2 separate regions of the Homo sapiens genome follow, and region 2 is linked to region 1. The links come from fine-mapping of genetic effects on gene expression. A gene starts in region 1. The other region holds a variant in brackets. All regions are shown on one strand. Distances are from middle to middle.

Evidence for each region. PIP is the estimated chance that this variant, and not a neighbour inherited with it, causes the effect.
Region 2: its variant is the best candidate, but not a certain one, in a credible set for the expression of TOX-DT in fibroblasts (GTEx, PIP 0.64).

Annotation. Positions count from the first base shown.
Region 1 is chr8:59,114,521-59,122,862 of GRCh38, reverse strand. TOX-DT (TOX divergent transcript) reads right to left here and starts at 3,653. Exons shown (of 3, transcript NR_149031.1): 1 at 3,578-3,653; 2 at 2,792-2,906; 3 at 1-2,527. It overlaps TOX (thymocyte selection associated high mobility group box), which reads left to right and starts at 3,716. Exons shown (of 9, transcript NM_014729.3): 1 at 3,716-3,977. The coding sequence starts at 3,876. RefSeq lists silencers at 2,972-3,191, 7,030-7,079.
Region 2 is chr8:58,859,489-58,867,830 of GRCh38, reverse strand. The region is part of intron 3 of TOX (thymocyte selection associated high mobility group box); the gene reads left to right. Among named protein-coding and RNA genes, the nearest start is that of NSMAF, 200 kb to the right of the region's middle. The variant A/TTA (reference allele first, on the strand shown) is at 4,078.

The sequences.
Region 1 (8,342 bases):
GTAACACATTCTGTATGTGATTTGGAGACATTACTACAAGATTTAGGACTTAACCTACATAATACAAAGAATCAGTAGACATAAAATGTGGTCACTGAAAACAAGTATAAATTTGAAAACGTAACAATTTGTGAAACTATAATTAAAGTGAAGATGGGCAATGTTGAGGGAACAAAATCAAATGCTCCGTGTGGTTTGTAATTACTGATGAGGCTTTCCAAAGTAATCTGGAAAATTAAATAAGACTGCGAAATTCAATGTAAAGAAATTAGGACCAGGTCCACGATATAGTAGGCATTTCACAAGTAGGTACTGATAGCATTACATCAGCACTGGTAAAGACACGTTTTGTTTACAGGCACTCATTTTCTGGTAACTAGAGTACATAAAGTTCCTAGGTCAGGTGAATAAACTGTAACCTGGACCTTTACAAGTCATGCAAGTTTACTGACAGTAAATGGGCAAATTGCCAACTCCATCTCTAAAAGGCAGCGTAGGTGATGAGGTTTTGGGAGTGGTGATCCTCAATGTCCTCTTATGGGGATCAACACAAAATGACAATCCAGCCTATCTACTAAAATTTCATACTTTTAACATTTCCTTTGTTAAGGACTCTTTCCTTCTAGACTACCTTATCTTTCCTTTTAGGCCAGTGGTTCTCAATCTTTTCTGAAAATTAAAGCCACTGGAGAGCTTTTAAAAATTCCTGTGCTCAGGCCCTACCTGAAAAGAACTGAATCAGAATCTGTGCGTGTGGGGCTCTGGCATGAGTATTTTTCTAAACTGCTAAGATGACTTCACTGACCAGACTAGTTTGGAAAATACTACTCTGAAAGACTACATCTAGAGCAGGAACCATTTTAAGTAATTTGTTTTGTATTTTAAACCTATAAATAATACAAAGCATTAGTGTTTTTCACCACTCTCTCTGTTGATTAATGTACAAATGAATGAGTGAATGGACAAATAACTATTTTATTTATCCATGATGTGGAGTTGAATGTCCAGGAAACTGAAAAGTATTACAATGATGCTCTATTTTATTTTCTAAATTAAGAAAGATTTGCTCAGAGGTTTAGATATTCAACTTTCCCCAACTTTTAGTACAAATACATCCATTTAGTTTTTGATGGGCCTTGGATACAGCATTATAAAGTGAGCATTTTTTCAGATTACACTGAGATGGCCTCTCTTTGTATAAGTGGCTAGAAGTAAGAACTTTTTCCCCCAGTAGCTCATATTCCCACCTATCACACCATGCCATGTACAGTATACCACTTTAACTCCATACACTCCGATGGAAGAAACCAGACTCTTGATTATGTAGAAGAATGCACAGGTCTCATGCATTTGGATTTTCCCTTAAAGCAGAGAAAACTGGTAGGTCTGTAGAGGAAAGCAGGAGATATCATTATCTCCCAGGAGTCAAGATGCAGATAATGGTATTGTTCCAGTCTTGAACCATTTCATTTCATCTTCCTGATGTTCACGAGGCCATCAAACAGACATCAATGATGAATTCCAAGAAAGTTTTATTTTTAAAAATCAAGTTTTGATATAATAAATGTTGGATTGAGGATAGAAATTTAAGCTGAGAAATGTTTAATTTGGACCTAAAAAAGTTTATTATTACTATTATTATTGTGGAAGGAAATACATACAGGCACATTTTAGTATCTACAACAGTATTTGGGAAGCTGTTATGAAACACAAAACTTCATTTAAATTTTATTATAAAGACCTTTATTAGGAGAAAGGACATATTTTCTATTTCTTACTTTTATTTTGTGCCTTGAAGGACTTGTGAATGTATAGAATAATTATTTTTTCTTACTGCTTCCTCTTTGCAACCCAACCTCCACCAAGTCAATCGTGAAGGTAGGAAGAAAGCTGTATTTCTGTTACTTTTAAAAATGATAACGAGAAGAAATTAAAACAATGGCTTAAGAGAAAGAGGATGTAAGGAGTACAAAGCAAAACTTAACAAAGAGTTAGTAAAGGAACTTGCATTGACAATTCACTCAGCCATGTTAATTTTATCATTAATACTGTCTTCATCATTTTTTTTTCCAGGTCTCTCTGCTCGTATTTGCTTGGTGCTCCGAAATGCACGGGAACAGACAGCTATGGGAAAGCTGCACAGAGCAGTTGGCAATCAACATGTCCTAGAAGGGTGTGTGGAGTAGCAAAACAAGTGGAACGGATGAAGAACTTCCAAGCTCCTTCGCAGAGTTTTGGGCCCTAGTGTGCAGGGCTGCTCCCTCATGAGATGGAGGACAATGTCGCCCACACCTACTTGGACCTCTCACCAAGGACACTGCCCTCAGAGATAAATCTGTTGGACGGCAGCCAAGAGACCCCAAATTGTCTCAACCTCCAGGACACGGCAAGTTGCAAGTTTCCGAGTTGGGGAGGCAAAGCGGGAAAACATGTTTGGCGATTTCCTCCTGCCACTCACCGACCGGAGAAATGGGGAGGCGGACTCCAGGTCTTTCGTGGACTGCCAAGAGCCCTATAGGGCGTCCAGCTATAAAAAGAGAAGAATCCCATGAAGGACAACAAGCAAACTCATATGTTATCCCTTTAGCCGGATTGTGTGCTGATGATTGTTTCCCTATTTACACTTCGAATCACCCCTGTGGTCTTTTGTGAGTCCCCAAGGCAGCCTCAGCCTTCGCAAACCGTCCAGTGGGGCACGAATCTCGGAGGGGTGCGGGCTGCAGGCGGCAGAGGGAAGCCAAAGAGGGGCGGCTTTTCCAGGCCGTCCACCCCCAGGCGAGCTGGTCCTCACCCTTCGATCGGCTCGAGTCCCTCGGACAGTTGCCCACTCACAGCGTGCAAAGGGGTCGCACTCCCTGTGGGTTCTCCGCCCTCAGAAGCGGCGCTGCGCAGGAAAGTCACCTCCACTACGGGCCGGGAGTAGGGAGGGGAGCACAGTGACAGGGTTGGGGAACAGCCGAGGAGGAGTGGGGGTCGCGGAGATAGGGGTGGGGACGGCCGCGGAGAGGGCGGTGGGAGTGGGGTGGGGCCGGGGAGGGCCGGGGGCGGGGCTGCGGGGCGGGGTGCGCCACAGCGCCCCCTAGCTGCGCGCTCCCCACGGTGCCCTGAGGCCGCTGGTGGCTCTGGCTCGGCAGCCCCTTTGTGTGCGACGCGCTGGTCCCGAGGAGCGCGGCACGGGCACAGCGGAGGCCTCCCAGGGTCCCACCGCTTCTGTCCCAGCCAGGCCGTGCTCTCCTCCTTCTCCTTCTCCGCTCCTCCTTTCTCCGGTCCCCGGCCTCTGGTTCCGAACAGCAGCCATTGGGCCTTGACGAGCCCGCGTCCGGCCGCGCTCCCTACCCCGCCCGGCCCGGGACGCTCGCCCCCCTCCCGCCCTGTCCCTTCTGGATCCCCGCCCCACCCCCCCACCCCCCACATCCCGGGCCTCCAAGGTGGAGAAAATAAACTACAAGCAGAACAACTCAGAATCTCCAATAAAACGCCCAGTACCTAGAGCCCGAGCGCGTGTGCCGGGCTGCGAGGGGCGCGGGAGGCGGGGATGGGGGGGCGGGCGGGGGGGACAATGAGCGCATGAAGTTACCTGCCCGGCGGCGGCGGCAGCGGCGGCGGCGGGACCAAGAGGCGGCGGTGGAGCAGGCTGCGCGCTCGGCGCCGACGGGTGCGCGCCGCGGCTTGGGGGAGAGTTGAGCGCTTTTCCCCCCTCTTTTTTTTTTTTTTCCTCTTCTTCTTAAACAAACCACAAACGGATGTGAGGGAAGGAAGGTGTTTCTTTTACTCCTGAGCCCAGACACCTCACTCTGTTCCGTCTAAGCTTGTTTTGCTGAACACTTTTTTTTAAAAAAGGAAAAAGAAAAGGAGTTGCTTGATGTGAGAGTGAAATGGACGTAAGATTTTATCCACCTCCAGCCCAGCCCGCCGCTGCGCCCGACGCTCCCTGTCTGGGACCTTCTCCCTGCCTGGACCCCTACTATTGCAACAAGGTGAACGCTCTGCTTTTGTTTCCACCGTGTTCTTGCTGCTTGATCCTGGGAGGGGAGCGGCGGTGGCCGGGCCGCGGCGGGGCCGGCTTGGCGGAGGCCGGTCCCGGGCGCGCTCGGCTCGCAGCCCGCTGCAGCCTGCGTGCGCTTGGGTAGTAAATATTGTGGAGTAGCTCCGGGGGCTTGCCAAACACCGCGATTGTGCGGAAAGTGACACGATTTGCTCGGATTCTTTCCTTCCTGCTGTTCGCGGCTAAGGATCCCTGCCTAGGTTTGCCGGGGGGCGTTTAAAAAAATAATAAGAGAAAACCGTGGAATACTTTGGGGGTGTGTCTGGGGTCCAGGAACGGAGGCAGAGTAAGAGAATTCAGTTTATTTCCCAGTTCCCCCTTCTCTCTCCCTCCCTCCCCGGGCAGTGGGGGCTCGTGGCACCACTTCCCTTCTCCGGATTAGTTGCCAGGGGAGCAGCCGGGAGTCGGGGTGCAGGGACCTGGGAGGCGCCCCTGCCCCCCACAGGGAAAACTGCCCCACAACTCTTTTGTTTTCTCAAACCGGTTCCGGCAGCCGAGCCCGGGTTCGGACACAGGTCCGCGGGCCAGAGCACAGCGGGGTAGCTGGGTCAAGGTTTGGGGAACAGTTCCTGTTTAAGGGGTGCGCGCGGAAATTGCAAGTTTGTTGGGAGCCGGGCGAGCACGTCGCGTTCAAGTCCAAAGCTCCCGCACTCGCGGAGCAGGGTCCGCGGCTGAGCTGTACCCACGGCCCGCTGACCTCGGGTGCCAGGGCCGCGGGGGCCCGGGGAGAGGCGGATCATGCCGGTGACCCGGAGGTGGGGCGCTGGCCTGGGCTGCTGCGGAGTTCGGCTGGGTCCACCTATAGGACAGTCAGGGGGTACGAGGGAGGGGGTTACTCTCCCGGCTTCTCGAACTCTCTCATCCCAGAGAGGGAGGACACGCAGGGACCGGTCCCCCAGAGTGGTCGCAGGGGCACGACTGCCCACGCCTAGGGCTAGTTGGACGTGTCTAAGCAGTCCCGTTGGATGAACGTTGGCAGAGAGAATTGAGTTCTCTAAAACGCTGGGCGGGCCTTTTAGACGCCCAACTCTCGCTTGGTGATAAATCTGCCTGATACTCACAGCCCCTGCAGGCACATCCATGGCGACCCTCGGTGCATTCCACGGGAAAAATCGTTGGGACTCCCAACATTTGCCTGGTGGCGAGTCATCACCAAACGGCTTTTTTACCTGATACAGAGATATTTAGTGCGCTGCCTTCTCAGCCCTGGACTCCGCACCACGCGACCGAGTCGCAGCTCCGAGTCTTGGACAGTGTTGACACACAGGCAGGCTCTCACACACACACTTCCCCGTGGAGAAGCTCCTCGATGCTGTGTCCAGTGTGAGACCCACTCAAAGGACTGTGCTGTGTGCCGATGGTGTTTAGGCAAGTTAGAAAAGAGGGACATCCAGTCTTGAGCAAGGCAGAAGGGCTTCCATTGTACAGGGAGCCCTTCAGCTACGGGCAAGTTGAAAGGTACGGGGAACTTTGGCAAGCGCATAGGAGTTTGTGTGATGAAGTTTCATTATTTGCTGGTGACATAGTTCTTTTAGTCTAAAATCTGTTTTGTCTGTACACTCAAGTATTGTGTTACGTTTTATTTTGCTTATGACACCAATACTATTGCTAATAAAAAATAATAAAGTTGCAGCCCTATCTTGGAGAGTAAAGACTTATTCCACTGTAGTTACCGGAACCAAAAGCTCAGAACTATTTTGGCAATGAGACTGGACAAATCTTATTAAGTTTATCAGTGATTTTAGGCCCCAAAAAGAAGTTAATGACTTGGATACACATTTCACTCCTCGTTCTTGTGATAAGTAGGGTCAGATTTAATTTAAAAGTTAAATGCTTTGGAAAATCAGGAATTACTTCAATATATTAAATCATTTTCCAATTAAGTGCTTTAAATAATTTTAGTGGGTTGTGCTGTGAATTGAATAAATTAATTTAGAAAGTATTCAGAATTTCTTTACTAGCTCATTGAAGTTCCTTTTAAGTCACCCCGTGTATAAGAAGCAAACTGTTCTTTTTAAATGCAAATTAGGCACCCTTTCTGTAGACTAGTTGCGAGTCTTCTATTTAACTTATCCAGAGAATAATAGATTTTTTAAAATCCAAAGTCATAAGACATGTTTCTAATAGTGGAAGAAGACTTCATGGAAATGTTTCTCCAGGGACATCTCTGGCCCATCTCTGTGTAGCAGTCCATCAGATATATTTGTCACTGGTCCCGATTATATTAAATGTACTGGATAGTTTTCTAGGCCCCACAAATCCCAGGCACTTGAGTTTTTTCACTCCACCATGATTAGCATTGGTACAAAATTTCTGTCCAGCTCCACAATTGTAGTTGTGCATAATGCAGTCAACTAGCATTTGTTTTTGCAATGACATGAGTGGATTTGCAGGGAAATGGAAGAAGGACAGAAGTTTGGAAAAGGTGAAGTAAGAAATCTGTGCCTACATTTATTAAAACAAGTTGGATCAGACATCCCCAAAAGAACAATACTGCAAAGTAAATCTTGCTTCCTTCGGAGGCGTAATGAATATGTAGCTTACTACAAATAGCAGTCAGTTTGTCAGGTGATTTGTTTTTAATAGGGTGATAAGATCATAAATTACTAATTATCTTTATTTTAAACCTGTCAACACTTTGCTTATTTAAAGTTGGTGTGCTAAATCCCAGCGGAACCAGTATCTATCTGTGCTTTAGAATCCTACAACTGTAGCTACAGTTTCCCGGTGACATTTTTTTCAATGTCAGAAGAGACTCTAATGGAGAAAATGAATATTCTCTTCCTGAAGCTTTCTAAACTAAAATGTGATTGTTTTACTCTGCTGACACTTTCCGGCACTGCTGCTCTATAGATTGCCAAAATGCTACTTACATTTTTCAGTTAATAAACTCTGGAGGAGGCATTTTTGGAAACGGTTTAATCTAGTATTGCTCTACTGTAAGACTAATACACGTTATGAACATATCACTATGCAAAGTAGCCTCCATTTTCACATAGCCCATTGTGGGAACAATGCGAATGATGTTGGTTAAGGCAAGTGTGTGAGGCATCTCTTACACAAACAGCCAGAACGGATGGCATGTTGCTGTATATAGGTCAGTGTTGGAAATAGCAGTGTAGCTCATAGACTGGACAGACACATGGAGGCTGGAGTTAACAGTATTCACCTCTTGCAGCCTAATGCATGGTTATATTTCAGACATTGAAAGATGAGTACCATAGTGGAGTTTCATCTAATTAGACTATTTTAAGTAACATTGTATCCCTTAATTGAGCTGAATGCTACCAAAATAAATTGGATTAAATGAGCTTACAATTGGAGTTCTGTAGTGATATAGTCTTGTTTTCTATTCTAGTTAAAGATGTCAGATCATCAGTTTAAATATATACCTACAGAGTAATAACAGTTCTTTTCAGTTTCTTAGTGCAGCGTCATTTCCAAAGATTGTTTTCACTGGTTTTATGCTAAGATAGGACAAAGAAGTGGTACTTTTTCATTTTTACAACGATGTGATGTGTTCAGTTATTGCTCAGTATCTGCCCACATAAGGAGTAGTAATACAATTATGTTATGACATGGCTAATGACAGGGATGGTGACCTCGGCCTGCAGTGGGAGGAGAAATAATGGGCTTCACTGTTCTCAGTGGTTGCCTTTATGGAATCATGTCCTGAATCTTTCTTTGGTTGATTTAGAAACAGGGAAGTCCAAAACACAAACCCATGCTTCATGCTGGTGATATACAGAGTGAAGAATAGTGGGCATTTGGAATATTCAGCTTTTATCATTGAAATGAGGAAGGACAGTGTATATGTTCTTTTTCGTAAAAACGCACAAGGAAGGACCCATTTGTGATGAACTCTGCTTGAAAATGTCAGGACAAACATTAGACATTTGATAACTTTTAAGAATAACGAGATTCATTACAGTCTCTGCAAAATCTCCTTTGAGCTTATTTTCTATTTAAAATGTATTATGTATTATACTTTAATGTGGCAATACTCATCAAAAATACAGGATTTGTAAGCACATTAAGAAGGAGTCATTATTCCTATTTTGAACAGTAAATGTAAGAAAAAGGAAAAGATGGGAGGAAGAGTAGGTCAAGGAGGAGTATGGGAAGAAAGAAGGTAAAGAAGGGAGGGTTATAAGCAGTTTAGAGCATCATGCTTGATTAGTTCTTCATCCACCTCCATAACTTCTAGGACTTTGGGAAATTCATAGTTGATAATTCATACATCACATATATATAATTAAAATTCCCCTGGGAGTTTTATCAGCTGGCACTTTTCAGA
Region 2 (8,342 bases), 260 kb after region 1:
GCAGTAAACAAGTCAAGCAAAAAAGCCAGCCCTCAGAATTTAGATTCTGGTCAGGAGAGCCAATTAGTTTGTGCAAATTCGTGCCCTGCTGCTCAAACTTGGGTTCACACACTAGCCACATTGACACCACCTTGGAATGTTAGAAATGCAGAGTCTCAGGCCCCTCCTCAGAACTTCTGAATCACAATTACACTTTAAGAGGATTCCTAAAAGATTCATGTACATGTTAGAGTTTGCAGAGTCTTACCCTAGACAATGTTAGATTGTGGTTATGCTGTGAAAAAGATGCTTGGGTTAGGAAGGATGGATCTACGTTTAATAGGCTTGTCCGGGAAAGCCTCTTAGAGGAGGCTGCCCTCGAGGGAGACTGAAACGTAGAGCCTTATTCATCTAGACCCAGCCCTTTAGTCCCTTCAACCCCCACCCCCAGAATGGGGACAGCGCCTGCTTATGTGCTATACCTTGTGAGCAGACAATGAGCGTTTGGGGCTGAAGGCCAGGAACATAAGCCAAATAAAAGCTATCTCCCTTTTTTTTATTAAAAAAGAACAACATCAAAATATAAGTGATTTTAGTCTTTAACTAAAATACCCCTGGCCTATGAAAGGGGAAATAAAATATAATGTACTATTCCAGAAGATTCTGACTTCTGTCTTTGCCAAGAGTGTTTTTTGTCTTCAAAAAATAAACTGTTCCTGGAAAATTCTATTAGCTTTTGTAAATGTAGATGCAGAAGAATGATCAGAGGGTTTTAAATTTAAAAAATGCTGGGTAGATATTCCTTCTTGTTCTCCTATAATAGGCTCTAAACTTTAATGGTGCAAGTTTCTCACTTTTCCCTCAGTTGATCAATGTAAATGAGATTTTTCCTATTTATTGGAGTTGTCATGTTGTGGTCATATAATTATGCTGAGATATTAAATATGTCTTAGACACAAAAATTGTAAGTAAATACAATACAGAGGAACTTTGAGCTTATTTCCATATCATTAAACCACGTTTTACCCATAAGCAAAGTGCATTTCTCATAACTTGTAAGAAATATCTTGCCTCACCGTAGCACACATACTTAACATTCTTTTAAAAGCTACTCAATTTGACATCAGTATTTGAATTCTTCTATCACCAGGAAATTAGGGGACAACAGAGTTGCAAATATCAATTTATAAATGTGCAGTTAGTAAGATTATAATTCTATTCTAAATGGCCATTCTGCCAATTAACATTTTTTTCAGGAGGCTGGGCATCATATTGAAAAAATTTACCTAAGTTAAGATTGCCTGGGGGCATTGGTTAAGAAAAGGATAGAAAGCATAAATTTGTGTCCAAAGGTAAGTACTTACATAGCAGCTGTTTCTATCAGTTACTTTGTTGCAATTAAGGTTTTGTAATAAATAATGCTGCTATTTTTTATTCCTGTGGCATTAAAATGTGTGAGGCTTATCAGTCTGGTAATTATGTAAATCCTAAAATAATTTATCCTTTTTAGTGTCTGGCAGTCTGACCCTGTTGGAGGTTATTGAACCACTGCTTGATGAGTATGTCAGTCAGTGTACCTTCTCATCCAGCAATCCCTGTATAACTAAGTGCAAGTCAACTCTTTTACAATACAGAAATTTATTGTTTAAGTGGTTCTGTTAGTATATAGACTTAGGCCACAGTCGTACTTTGTTGTTGTTAAAAACATGTCACTGTCAGCCAGGCACAGTGGCTCATGCCTATAATCCCAGCACTTTGGGAGGCTGAGGCGGGTGGATCACCTGAAGTCAGGAGTTTGAGACCAGCCTGGGCAACATGGTAAAACCCTGTCTCTACTAAAAGTACAAAAATTAGCCAAGTGTGGTGTCAGGTGCCTGTAATCCCAGCTATTCCAGAGGCTGAGGCAGGAGAATCACTTGAACCTGGGAGGTGGAGGTTGCAGTGAGCCAAGATCGTGCCACTGCACTCCAGCCTGGACGACAGAGTGAGACTCTGTCTCAGGACAAAAAAAAAAAAAAAAAAAAGCCACTGTCATTACCATAATTAAGAAAAAAGATAGTGAAATGACAAAATGAATATTACTTCTAATTTTAAAAAATTCCCCTGGCAGATTAAAATCTCTACTAACGACTCCAAACAATACTCTCAATTAGCTGACTCATATTTTCTTTTTCTTTTCTTTTTGTTTTTACCACATAAAGACCGAAAATATATTTAAGAAGGGCATGTCCACAGAGCAGCATACAATTGCTTTAGTCTGTTCCATATTCCATAACCACAAAACTTCACAATTATAATTGAGGGGAAAATTTATTCTCTTGAAATCCTTTCAAGATTTTATTGAGAATCAGGTATTTAACAGGGACAGAAAAGCAGGCAAAGGCATTCTAGAACAGTTTTCAACAAGAATTAAAACTAAAAAAAAAAAAGTACGAGGATACCAAATTAAATTTTTAAAAACACTGTTTTCTGAGAATATTTGGACATTTTACCAAAATTGTGTTATCCTGATTGTTGGCATGAATATTCAGAGTTAACTGCAAACTTAATTGAATTCTTATTCTGAGACAGCCTTCCAATATATAATGGCAGGGACCACACCAGAGTCATTATAATCAACATATGTATTCATTACTCTCCTGTGGTTAAACCCCTTGTACACAATTTTAAAAGCTTACAATGGCCTAGAAATGGTTCCACAGGCTTTGCTGGGTCTTTAAGGTCAACATCTCCTCAGTGTCTCACCCATCCACCACCTTCCTCAGTTAGATTGCATGGGAGAGATGCCACTTAATGGTTAAGTGGGAAAAGTTGTCTTCATCTAAAACTGAATGTAGGGAAAGCTCTTCTTTTCTGATACAAGTTTCTGATACCAGCTCTCATAAACCCATCAAGCATCCATTTAGTCTTTCACTGTTAAAGTGAAAGGAAACTGTATTTTTTAAGCGAACGATGTCTACTCAGTGTTTATGCCTCACAATGAATTTGTTCCAAGTTCCTTTTCCCTTTCAATTTTGTCTCAGAGAGTTATTAAGCTTTCACATAATTAAGCCATGATCCCCGTCTGGGCCCACAGTAAGACTTGTGCACTCTCCACCTTCTCTTACAGAGTGTTTTGCTTTCATTCTTCCCTTCTAGAAAACATGCTTTACTAACAAGTGAAAGGCACTGATTGACAAGTGAAACAATATAAAGAAAGGTTTTGATGGAAATGTTTGTCAGTCACTCTGTGAAAGCATAATTTATGTGGCAACATTTTTAGCTAATGAAATGAACGTTGTAAAGCTCTAGATAAAAATGGCTACTGTTGCTGTACCCATAAATGTTTTTTAGGACCCAATGAAAAAACCCAAGTTATTTTTGAAACGTTAGGCCCATATTTGGGGACTGGTGAAATGGTCTCTCTGCTAATATAGTATCAAATGGTAGTGTATTTTTTATTTTTGTTTTTTGATTTCTTTCAGTTAAAACAACTTTATACCTCAGAATATATTCTGACATATAGTCTTGAAACTACAGACTAAGTCTAGTCATCCTAAGACTTACAGGACAATACACTTAAGAATCACATTGCTAATTCCCAAACAGAAATCAAACTGTCAGATAGCTTTTAGCCACATTTTTTAAAGTATAATTTGATTGTATGTTGAATTTTTGAGGTTTTAAACTCATCCTTATCATTGGATGAAAGGCCACATGATTGTTTTATTTTTGTTCAATTTTCTTTCACACTATCTTAGACATATCATTACTTTTATGAAAATATAGCAGATGTACTGACTGTCAAACAATTAGATGGTGTGTCTGCTGTCAATTATATTGCCTCCGGAGTTAAATTCTACTCATGTACCTTCTGATGTTAAAAAAAAAATTCTTAATTCTAAGTGATGCTCACTGCAATTTTAATGCAATGCAGACAGACTCCTTGTTGCAGCATTATTCTCTGCAATTCTATAGCAGTGCAATTTTGGTTATAGCAATTAATCCCCTTTGACTTGTATTATAGTATGTCTTCCAGGCTGTGAGTTATTTGAGTACAGGGATAGTCTCATCTGTCTTTGTTTCCCCTAGGACCTCTCACAGTGCGAGGCACAGAGT[A/TTA]AGTGTTCAGTTAAAAAAAAAATTAATTGAATTTCCTGCAAAAGAAATTAGTGCATTAAATTCAGTCATTCTAGGTTCTAGCTGCATCCTCCCCTATAAGTCCTTCCAACTATCTTTTGTTTAAAGAACAGCTAAAAACATCATCAGATCATACACTGAGTCAATAGTACAGTTCCATGGTTATGATATAGGCTTTGAGATCAGGCGCCCTGTGACAAATTGCAGCTGACCCACTTACTGAATAACTGGAGAATGCCCTCTCTGTTCCTTTGGGTCCCTCGTGAGTACCATGGCAGTGGCGACTGTAACAGTTTCACCTGGTTGCTGTGAGTCCTAAATAGGGTAATTCATGGAAACTTCTTAGTACCGTGCTTAGTATATTAGGTGGGACCTGTCAGTATTAGATATTTTTAATAAGAGAACTTAAAATCACAATTACCAAAGGCTAAGAATGGGCATTTGAGGAAACTGATATGAGGACAGTTACCTGCTTGTGAGAGAGAGACCAGTTCAAATCAGTTGTGCTGAGTATAGTCACTTGGAGAAATAGAGATTGAAAATGTGAAAGATATATTTCCTATTTTTCAATAATACCTAAATTTATTTATGCCACTTGTCACACAGGGCTATAATCATGCAGGATTATGATTTTTTTTAACACTTTAGACCATAATGACATAATTTCAATGTATATTTGGTAGGTGTTAAACCAGTAAATGATAGATAATTCAAATTATTAACATTAGTGCTTTAAAGTCAGTCACTATTAAAACCTTATTATTAGTTGAGAGGGTCTATGTTAGTGGACATGGAACTATCCCCCCAAAATGGAAGATATTTGTTCAAATTAAAATTAGAACATGTAGTTCATATATTCTAAATGAACATGTGTGCCTCTGTAATAATAACTTTATTATCACCAAGTTACAGGATAGAGTTTTAATTATGATCTTTATATCAGTAGAAGCCATGTATTTAGGATTAAAGACCTACTGCTTTAGCTAGTCTAGTTAAAGACTATGGCTTGATACATTCTGGGCTCCAACTTTTATAAAAACCAGAGAATACTTCTAATAACACTTTTCTAATTTCATGGTTCGGTGCACAGTCAGTAAAGATTTAAATAATTCAGAAAGAAAGCCTATTCTCTTTCTTTATTAGAAGTTTGAGTCAGGCAAATTCTTTGACATTTAATAGGTTTTTAACCCTTTTAATAACTTTTTATAATGAAATTTATTGGCTGTTGTTTTAAAGAAAGGATCATTATATTAGCATGAATAGCAGTCACTAGTTTTTATGATTAGTTTTGAGACCTTGACCTTATGTGACTCAAAGTTTATAAAACCATAAATGAGTGAGTGATGTTAATATTAACTAAATTAGGTATACCTAGAAATATTGAGACTATATATAATTACATCTATCCCATTATCTAACATGCTATAAAATTTTGGCAGACAAATATTTGAATCTTGTAATTGTTTTAAAGGAGCTTAAGGTCACTTACAGAGTCAGACACTTTAAAATAGCTGAAAGACATTGTAATTTTCCTAGAATGATTGTTCCAAGTTATTAATACCATGCTCAAAAGGAGAGGATTTCCAGCCTTTTCCTGTCTTCGTTTCATGCTATTTTAATGTTTTATAATGTATTATTTGAAAGGATTATTGGATGATTTCCATAATAAAATACTAATGTAAAAATTGTACTTTTCTTCAAGTCTCCAATAAGTTGGGGCATACAAGTATTCTGCACAGGGAAGCTGTCTGGCTCAAGCAGAATATAAGGTTTTAATTTTGCTTCTTAAGATGTATTTTTAAGCTGAATGTCACGTGTATCTAATGATTTAAGTGCCTCTAAATGAACTCAAATATCAATGTTCTGAACTGATGTTAGGAAGTCAATATCCCACTTGACATCTCTATTTTTGCAAGCATCCCATTAACATTCCGTGGAAAAATATGAGAAAGCAACTTAAATTCCCAAGTTTAAATATGGTGTGAAGAAGCATTCTTGCTAGCTCATGCTGCTATGAATACACAGAGGTAGTTCTAGTAAGTGATCCGCTACTCCCAGACGGCATGTCTCCCAGTACGTCCCAATTTTCTTATTACTTAACCTACACTTCCAATCCATTCTTTTTATTTCAATGCACACAATCCTTTGAAAGTATTCTAGAAATAAAGCACATTATTCAGTCCCTTCTCTGGGCACATCAAAACAAAGGAGATATGAGCAAACAGTAGCATGTTTGATACACTTTTAATATAAAATCATAGCCCCTTGTGAACAAAACACTGCCTACACTTTGTAGCACAGATGCAAAAGTCATGATCTATACAAATACAAATAAAAGGCTTCGTTGATTCTAATCATAGGTAGACCCAGAGCACATTCATAAACTCCCCTTACCAGAGATGTAATTTGTAGGAACTGCTAATTCAGATGTTTTGGGAATCAGAGGGTGGACCACATGATCCCCAGAGCTCTTTTAGACAGGACAGACCCTTTAGTCCGTGAGCCTCTCATGTCCTGCCATTATCTGCAGTTATGAGAGATGCACCTTGTCAAGTAAAAGTAAACTTTGCCTGTTGCCCATTTGCACATTTCCTTTATTTTCGCTGGGCAGGAAAGCCCTTTCAAGGGCTCACTGAAGCACGGTGTGTCAAACTTGGTAATATTGACGTTGATAGTTTAAGATTCACAGCAGGAAACAAATGGCATTGGCATGAAGCAATCAGAAACGAGGTGGCTCAATCTGAGTAAAAAACATCTTTCCAACTGTGCAGTTAAAGGGCAACGCTATACGCCATAACCTCCTGGCCGAAGTTGTGATCCAAAAGAGAGATTATATGTACATAGTTGATGGAAAAGAATGCTGTCCTATGAACTGGAATACCTTTTTATACGTTAAAATGTTTTTGAACTTTGTATCTACCAGTTAGCCTATTAGCCTTGATCAGGGAGCTATTAAAACCCAGGTTATAAGTTCAACCTTTATCTGTGCTGTTGACTTTCTCTCAGTGAAACCCTGTGCTCTGTGACTGTAAGCTGCCCTGCTTATCCCAGGGAAGGTCCCCATAGATACAAGCTTTTGGCTGCCAGAATGTTTGGTCATAATTGTGTCAGTGGCTCACCAGGGACCAGAACTGGTCAGGGAAAGCAACTCAAGGATAATAACCGAAGAGAACCATCAGCGTGAGCAGCAACCACAAAAATGAATTCATTTGTGACAAAATGCATTCGTAGTCCTTATCTTAGTTAATCCTCACAGTCATGTTTTAAGGAAGCATTTAAGGTCAGTACACTCCTCTCCTATTTGTCTCCTTACAACATCTCACTGTCCTAAAATATTTATTGTCTTGTCTGTCTCTTCCACTAGGAAGTGAGCTGCATCAGGGCACGAATTCCAACTACATGGTCACCACTGTGGACCAGGTACCTAAGACAGTGCCTGGCACATAGCAGGCACTCAATAAATATTTGTTGGTGAAAAATTATCCTCTTTTTATGAGTTGAAAAATGAGGGTTAAAGAAGTTGAAAGTAAGACAACTCATTAGAAACAGTGGCAGCTAGGTGTCATGAACAGGGTTGCCTCCACAATAGCACACGGCCCCCCTCTCCTTTAGAGAAAGGAAAAAAATCGAATAAAATGGCGTAAAATTGCTTTTTCAGTTGTTTATAGATATAAATCCAGATGCATACACTAGAGCAACTAAGACACTTCTTTCTGGATCTGCTGGATGTGGCAGCAATTGCAGTGGAGTTCTGCAGAGGAGGCCAGGCAAGGGCACTAAGGGCGTTAACAGGTTCAGGGTCCCCCTTCTCTCTGTTGCTTGCTGCTCTTCAATATCTGATCTTTGGTTCATCCCTGGGAGACGATGTACAAACAAACAAACACCAAAACTGGTGACATGGTTTTTAGCCAGTGTGATTTTTAGCCATCACTTTTAAGACTCTTCAGTGATGTTTTGCTCTGAACACACCAAATTCCTTGAGTAATAAGGGGCCCATTCGTGGAAGAAGCCACAATGGAGAGACCACAGTGTAAAGGAGTGAGATGGTCAGGTAATGTAGAAGTCAGGCAGTGTGAGCACTGGTTTCTGAGGCAGTTTTAATCTTCTCTGAAGATGGTGGTTCTAGAGAGTACTATGGCTGTTCATTTGGCAAATATCTAATAAATTGTGCTCCAGGGTTCTTACTTTCTTGTGATAAATTGTTTTATAATGACTAATTACCCTAACTAAACTACAGGTATTCTATT